Linked DNA regions of Homo sapiens. The protein of the gene in region 2 purifies or fractionates together with the protein of the main gene of each other region. This does not show direct contact. Each region holds a gene or a part of one and is shown on either strand. Other genes may lie near its edges.

Evidence for each region. The genes of interacting proteins can lie anywhere in the genome.
Region 1: the proteins of PDCL3 (region 2) and ACTR1A purify together in Homo sapiens (co-immunoprecipitation; 2 studies listed by BioGRID and IntAct, with this or other methods). This does not show direct contact.

Annotation. Positions count from the first base shown.
Region 1 is NC_000010.11:102,482,221-102,485,712, reverse strand, and holds part of ACTR1A (alpha-centractin), read left to right. Parts: coding exon 1-104; intron 105-1,336; coding exon 1,337-1,553; intron 1,554-2,609; coding exon 2,610-2,702; intron 2,703-3,492. UniProt on the Homo sapiens protein: Part of the ACTR1A/ACTB filament around which the dynactin complex is built. The dynactin multiprotein complex activates the molecular motor dynein for ultra-processive transport along microtubules.
Region 2 is NC_000002.12:100,565,993-100,569,492, forward strand, and holds part of PDCL3 (phosducin-like protein 3), read left to right. Parts: intron 1-510; coding exon 511-637; intron 638-2,938; coding exon 2,939-3,029; intron 3,030-3,500. UniProt on the Homo sapiens protein: Acts as a chaperone for the angiogenic VEGF receptor KDR/VEGFR2, increasing its abundance by inhibiting its ubiquitination and degradation.

The DNA of each region.
Region 1 (3,492 bases), on a different chromosome or scaffold from region 2:
GCGCCTTTAAACCCACGAAAAAACCGGGAACGAGCTGCCGAAGTTTTCTTCGAGACCTTCAATGTGCCCGCTCTTTTCATCTCCATGCAAGCTGTACTCAGCCTGTGAGTAGCAGCTGGCTAGCCCGGCCCCTGCGGGGAAAGCAGTCCTTTGGCACAGCTGAGGCTGGCTCTCCTCTGGAATGGTTCAGAGTAACTTGAGCCCCCTCTGCTAGGGAAAGGTTAAAGATGGTGGGAAAGAGAGAGAGGCTTTTGCTGAAACTGAGCACTGAGGCTTCGTAGTTGAAAGCAAAGAAGGACATGTGGCTGCTATTGACCATATCCCAGTGTCAGGACTCCTAGTGGGTTTGGTCCCCAAGGCCTTGGCTGGGCCTGCCGAGGCAGCCACATGCTGCAGCAGCTCTTCCCGGAGGCCCCCGTAATGTGTCCACTTATTATTCAGCACTTACTGTGGCCAGCTGCTCTGCCAGGCTGTGAGACAACCATGATCCGAATGCCACCACAGTCCTTGTTCCCATCCCCCGTGGCTCCTGTCACACTCCTACCCCACCTCACACCAGAGTGAGGTCTACGGCAGAGATTATCCACAAGTGACCTACACGTGGGATTTATTTGACCCCATTAACAAACTGTGAGCCAGCATTTAAAAATCAAGAGGTGTCCCATCAAAACCCAAATTTTTGGCTTCTCTGAAAAAATGGGAAGATCTGGGAAGGTCGGGCACACATTCCCACAGGGCAAAAATCAGCTGGAGCTGAAGAGCGGCTGCCACTTGAGATGGGGCTGGCAAGCCCACCCTCCCCACAGCCTGTCCATGCTCTGTTGGCCTCTCCGCACTGAAGCAGGGGGTCAGTTGCCTCACTTGCCTTTTTTTGGAGGGAGGCTGACAAAGGTCCCCGGGCTCTCAAACCAGTAAAGCAGGGTCTTCTCCTGCCTTTGTTTTTTATGGAAGTGAAAAATATTCTTATTTTTCTTTACTCTTACTTTTCCTGCCTGGCCCCTGTTGACATTTGAGGGTTTTTGCCTTTTGTCTAGAGAGTTAAAACTGGCCCCTAGGCTGGGTCTCTGAAGCAGCTGAAGGCCAGGCCATCTCAGACAGGAAGGCCTGCTCTTCTGGGTACGGGGAGGGAACTTGGAGAAGATCAGCAACTTCCGTTCAGGTATTTCATGGCTTGCTCCAACACCTGGGCTTCCTTAGTACCCAGTCCATTCTACAGACCCTGGAGAGAGGCAGGCCCAAGCTTTAGTTTAGCTGACATTGAACCCTAAATAAAGAAGTGTATTTCTTCCCAGCGTGAGGAGGCAGTGCTGAGTGACGGTTTGCCCCTTTGCTTCAGTTACGCTACAGGCAGGACCACAGGGGTGGTGCTGGATTCTGGGGATGGAGTCACCCATGCTGTGCCCATCTATGAGGGCTTTGCCATGCCCCACTCCATCATGCGCATCGACATCGCGGGCCGGGACGTCTCTCGCTTCCTGCGCCTCTACCTGCGTAAGGAGGGCTACGACTTCCACTCATCCTCTGAGTTTGAGATTGTCAAGGCCATAAAAGAAGTAAGTGCTGCCCCCTGGGCCTAGGGATGGAGTGGGGGTTGGGAGCATAGCACCCAGGACCTTGGTGACCTGCCAGTGAAGCCAGGCAAAGCACCTGCCTGGGGGTCCCTGGTGAGGCCTTGTTCTTCCCAGCCAGGTCTCCCCTACGTCACACTGACAGATTCGCCTTCCTGACGTGCTGCCATCTTGTTGGGGGAAAGGGAGCTGCTTCCATTTCTTCAGTTGGGTGATGGCTACATAGGGGCTCAGTATGTTTTTTATACCTTATATGCAAATTACATAGGGTTTGGTTTTGTTTCATTTTGTTTTGTTTCTGAGATGGAGTCTCGCTCTGTCGCCCAGGCTGCAGTGCAATGGTGTGATCTCGGCTCACTGTAACCTCTGCCTCCCGGGTTCAAGCAATCGCTTGAATCCTGCCTCAGCCTCCCAAGTAGCTGGGATTATAGGTGCCTGCCACCACACCCCACTAATTTTTGTATTTTTAGCAGAGACATGGTTTCACCATGTTGATCAGGCTGGTCTCAAACTCCTGACCACAAGTGATCTGCCCGCCTCAGCCTCCCAAAGTGCTAGAATTGCAGCATGAGCTACCGCGCCCACTCCTGGTTTTTTTATTTTTATTTTTTTAACATCCTTGAAGAAGTCATAATACATTTAAAACATTTGTCTTTGTAAGTAAACTGAAACCTCCTGCCACCTGTGGCTATAGGGAAAACTCGAGCTGGGTAGGACCAGAACCATATGAGTGGTAGAAGGAGAAAGATGCCTGGGCCTGGGCTGAACTTAGGTTGTGGTCTCAGACCTAGGATCCAGGGGCCAAGTTTCCAAGCTTGCCCATCAGGAAGGTGGAGCGGTTAAGAACTCATATGCTAAATGCCACCCAGTGAAGGCCAACAGAGACCTCACTGCCCCTGCTTCTGGGCAGCAGCTATAGTGACCATTGGGGCCATCACAACGTTTAGACAGGTTTGTGCAGCAGCACATTCCTCCCCTGGGCCTTTGACTGGATGTGCACCAGATTTCCTGCCAGCCTGACTGTCTTGCTTGGATCTGCAGAGAGCCTGTTACCTATCCATAAACCCCCAAAAGGATGAGACGCTAGAGACAGAGAAAGCTCAGTACTACCTGCCTGATGGCAGCACCATTGAGGTAGGTGGCCTGCCTTCTTTCTTCGGTCCCCTTAGGTCCACAAAAGCTCTGGGCCCAACCAGAATTCTCCATCAGGGTCTGGAGTCTGGCAGGCCAGTCCCTTTACACCAAGCTTGTCCAACCCCTGGCCCATGGGCTGCACGTGGCCCAGGATGGCTTTCAGTAAGGCCCAACACAAAGTCGTAAACTTTCTTAAAACATTATGAGATTCTTTTGCAATTTTTTTTTTTAGCTCAGCAGCTGTCATTAGTGTTAGTGTATATTATGTGTGGCCCAAGACAATTCTTCTTCCAATGTGGCCCAGGGAAGCCAAAAGACTGGACACCCCAGCCTTACACCCTCTCTCTGGAGCAGCAGAGCTCCTGAGCATGAGTGGCCCTGTCTCCTGCAGAGGAGGCAGCCAGAACTTTGCTCCCTCCCGCTAGAGGGGAGGAAGCTCCTAAGGGATTGTCCCACATCAGTATGAGATTAGGAAGTGGGATGGTTAGTGCCATCCTTCACCACACCTGGGTGCAGTGTAGGGTGAGTTACCACTCCCTTGAACCCCCATTGCTAGGAAGACGTTTCCATGAGCAAATAAATCCATGTACTGATGCCAAAGACCTCTTGGCTGGAAAATGCCAGAGCGAGAAGGAAATATAGGAGCCTCCCCTCACTAGTTTCCAGGAGGCCTATCTTTGTTCCTTTAAGCCCTTGACATGTAGAGTCTGTCTTGAGCCTGGCCTTCATAGCCACCCAGTTACTAAGTGACGTGCAGAGGGGCGTCTTCCATTCCCACTCCCAAAGGGAC
Region 2 (3,500 bases):
TCCCGGGTTTATGCCATTCTCCTGCCTCAGCCTCCCAAGTAGCTGGGACTACAGGTGCCCGCCACCACGCTCGGCTAATTTTTTGTATTTTCAGTAGAGACGGGGTTTCACCGTGTTAGTCAGGATGGTCTCTATCTCCTGACCTCGTGATCCGCCTGCCTCAGCCTCCCAAAGTGCTGGGATTACAGGCGTGAGCCACTGTGCCCGGCACTCTCAGTCATTATTAAAAATATTGAACACATGCCAAGTCAGAGCCTTGGTATCCGTATTGATACTGATCTGCACTCCCTATCCTAATTTTTACCCCAAGAATAGCTCCTCCATTCAGGGAGGGGTAGACAGGAAAAACAAAACGGGGGCTATGGATCTTTTGACACTTTCTCAGAAATAGTTCACAGACTGGTGTGCATTCCTCCCTTCCTGTCACTTTTCCCATTTGGCCCCTTGCCCAACGTGGCACCCTACATACTAGACTTAGCACTCATGGTAACCTTGGTCCCGCTCTTCTAGGACCCCAACGCAGACACTGAATGGAATGACATCTTACGCAAAAAGGGTATCTTACCCCCCAAGGAAAGTCTGAAAGAATTGGAAGAGGAGGCAGAAGAGGAGCAGCGCATCCTCCAGCAGTCAGTGGGTGAGTTCACTCGCTTTCCTCTGCACCTGTCTGGGTTAGGAGATGGCTCCCTAAGCCTCTGACTGCCCTGCCAGGAGACAGGTTGGAGTGCCAGCATGGACACTCTGTGTCTGTGGGACCTCAGACAAAACACAGGGCGTCTCTCACCTTCACCTTCCTGAGCCATAGACTTAGGGGACTTCAGATATGTCCCACAAGTCCTTGTCCATGTCACATGAGCACTGAAGAAAATACTTCTTTCTGCTTTCTGGTCTGTGATTCCCTTTGATAATGTCATGGAAATTTGTTCAAGGTTTTTAGTACTTGTATTTTCCTGAGCATATACTTTATTTTCTGTGGTTTCATTGAGGATATTAACTAAAAATTGCTTCATTTGGGGAGGCATAAGATGTTTGCAATGTGTGGGAGTCTGAGGGGGGTTTTCTCAAAGGCAGTTGTACTGTCTGAATTGGAGTCCCTTGGAGTGCTGGTAACCCCACCCACCTAGTGTTTACTGAAGCAGTCTCTGGAATGAGGCCCAGGAATCTGCATTTTAAACAAGTGCCTTAAAGGATTCTGATGCGTGTCATAGTTTGAGAAGCACTGGTCCCAGGGACTAGTACTTTTGTCCTCTGTTGACACATTAGAGCTAATTTAGAGAAGGATTTATTAGAAAGTATCCAGCGAGTGCTTACTGCATGATTATCATTGTCAGGTGCTTTTCTGGGGTTGGGGATTTAGCTATGCATAAGCCAGAGACAATTCTCTGCCCTCAGAGAACCAACATTCAAGTGGGGGAGACAGACAATAAACAATAAAGAAAATAAGGCAGTAAAAGGGACTAGAAAGGGTTGGAGGAGAAGCAGGCTCAGAGAGGGCCTCACTGAGATGACATTTGCATGGACCTGAAGGAGGTGAAGCTGGCATTTGGGTAAAGACCTGAAGGAGCTGAAGAACACATTTGAATAGACCTGAGGGAGTTGTTGAGACCTGAAGGAGGTGAAGAAGACATCTGGGTATTCCTGAAGGGGGTGACGTGAGCGAGTGAAATATGGGCCCTGGCATGGCTGGGAATCCCTGAGGAGCTGGAGGCGCTGGGGGAGAGAGTTCAGAGCAGCCTCAGCAGACCCAGAAGCTTCTAGTAAGGACCTTGGCCTTTACACCTAATGAGGCAGGAAGCTTTTGGATGTTTAAACAGAAGAGTGACATTTTCTCTTTTTTGTTTTTTTTTTGAGATGGAGTCTCGCTCTCTTACCCAGGCTGGACTGCAGTGGCGCAATCTTGGCTCACTGCAACCTCCGCCTCCCAGGTTCAAGCGATTCTCCTGCGTCAGCCTCCCGAGTAGCTGGGATTACAGACATGTGCCACCACGCCTAGGTAATTTTTTGTAGCGATGAGGTTTCACCATGTTGGCCAGGCTGGTCTCAAACTCCTGACCTCTAGTGATCCGCCCACCTCAGCCTCCCAAAGAGCTGGGATTATAGGCGTGAGCCACTGCACCCAGCCAAGGGATGCATTAACTTGGAGATCCCTATTAGACAAATAGCCACATTAAGAGGGCCCTTGGGTATGTTTTTCTCTACATTAGAGAAGTCTGGGCTGGAGGCCTATACTTTGGGAGTTGTCAGCATATTGATAGCACTGAAAGCCATGAGATTAGATGCAATCACCGAGGGAGTGGGTGTGGATAAAGAAGAAAAGTAGTCAAAGGTTTGAGCCTGGGGAATTTTAATCAGCAAAGGGTTCAACAGTAGGGCGGCTGGCTCACTCCTGTAATCCCAGCACTTTGAGATGGGCAGATCACTTGAGGTCAGAAGGTTCAAGACCAGCTTGGCCAACATGGTGAAACCCTGTCTCTATTAATGATACAAAAATTAGCTGGGTGTGGTGGCACACGCCTGTAATCCCAGCTACTCAGGAGGCTGAGGCAGGAGAATTGCTTGAATCTGGGAGGCGGAGGTTCTCAGTGAGTCAAGATCGCACCATTGCACTCCAGCCTGGATGACAAGAGTGAAACTCTGTCTCCAAAAAAAGGAAAATAAGCGGGGCAGGGTGAGGCGGAATAGGAGAAGAGAGGGGAGGAGGATCTGAGGGCTTGGGTAAAATGTTGTCAGTCAATAAATTGGGATTACAGGTGTGAGCCACCATGCCTGGCCTCTCAGCTTCTAATGTAGTGTGGTGCCTTAAGTAATTTTTGTTTAGGTAGGCTAAGGATCTGGTGTTGTGTGCATATCTTTAGGAGAAAAGAGAGGGGAAAAAAGAAAAATACATGTTCGTTCATCTTTTTAAATTTTTGCTTTTTGCCAATGTAACCAAATTCAGTGAAAACATATGAAGATATGACTTTGGAAGAGCTGGAGGATCATGAAGACGAGTTTAATGAGGAGGATGAACGTGCTATTGAAATGTACAGGTAAGCGCCACCCAGAGGGGCTGTTTGTTTTTTTGTTGTTGTTTGTTTTGTTTTGGTTTTTTTTTTGGCGTGGCAATAAAATGTGTGGGCTGAGCATGGTGACTCATACCTGTAGTCCCAACACTTTGGGAGGCTGAGGCAGGCAGATCGCTTGAGCTCAGAAGTTTGAGACCAGCCTGTGAAACCCCGTCTCTATAAATAATACAAAAACTAGCTGGGTGTGGTGGTGAACGGCTATAGTTCCAGCTACTCAGGAGCCCTGGAAGTGGAGGTTGCAGTGAGCTGAGACTGTGCCACTGCACTCCAGCCTGTGTGACAGAGCCAAACTCTGTCTCAAAAAATAAAATGAAATGTGTGTCCTTCAAAAAATTAATTTTCAGCTGAAACATCTAGGAGCGACTGCAATTAAATAATATTGTGAATTTTAGCAAACTGATCTTAGATTTTTGCCATAAGACCAATAAATAAACC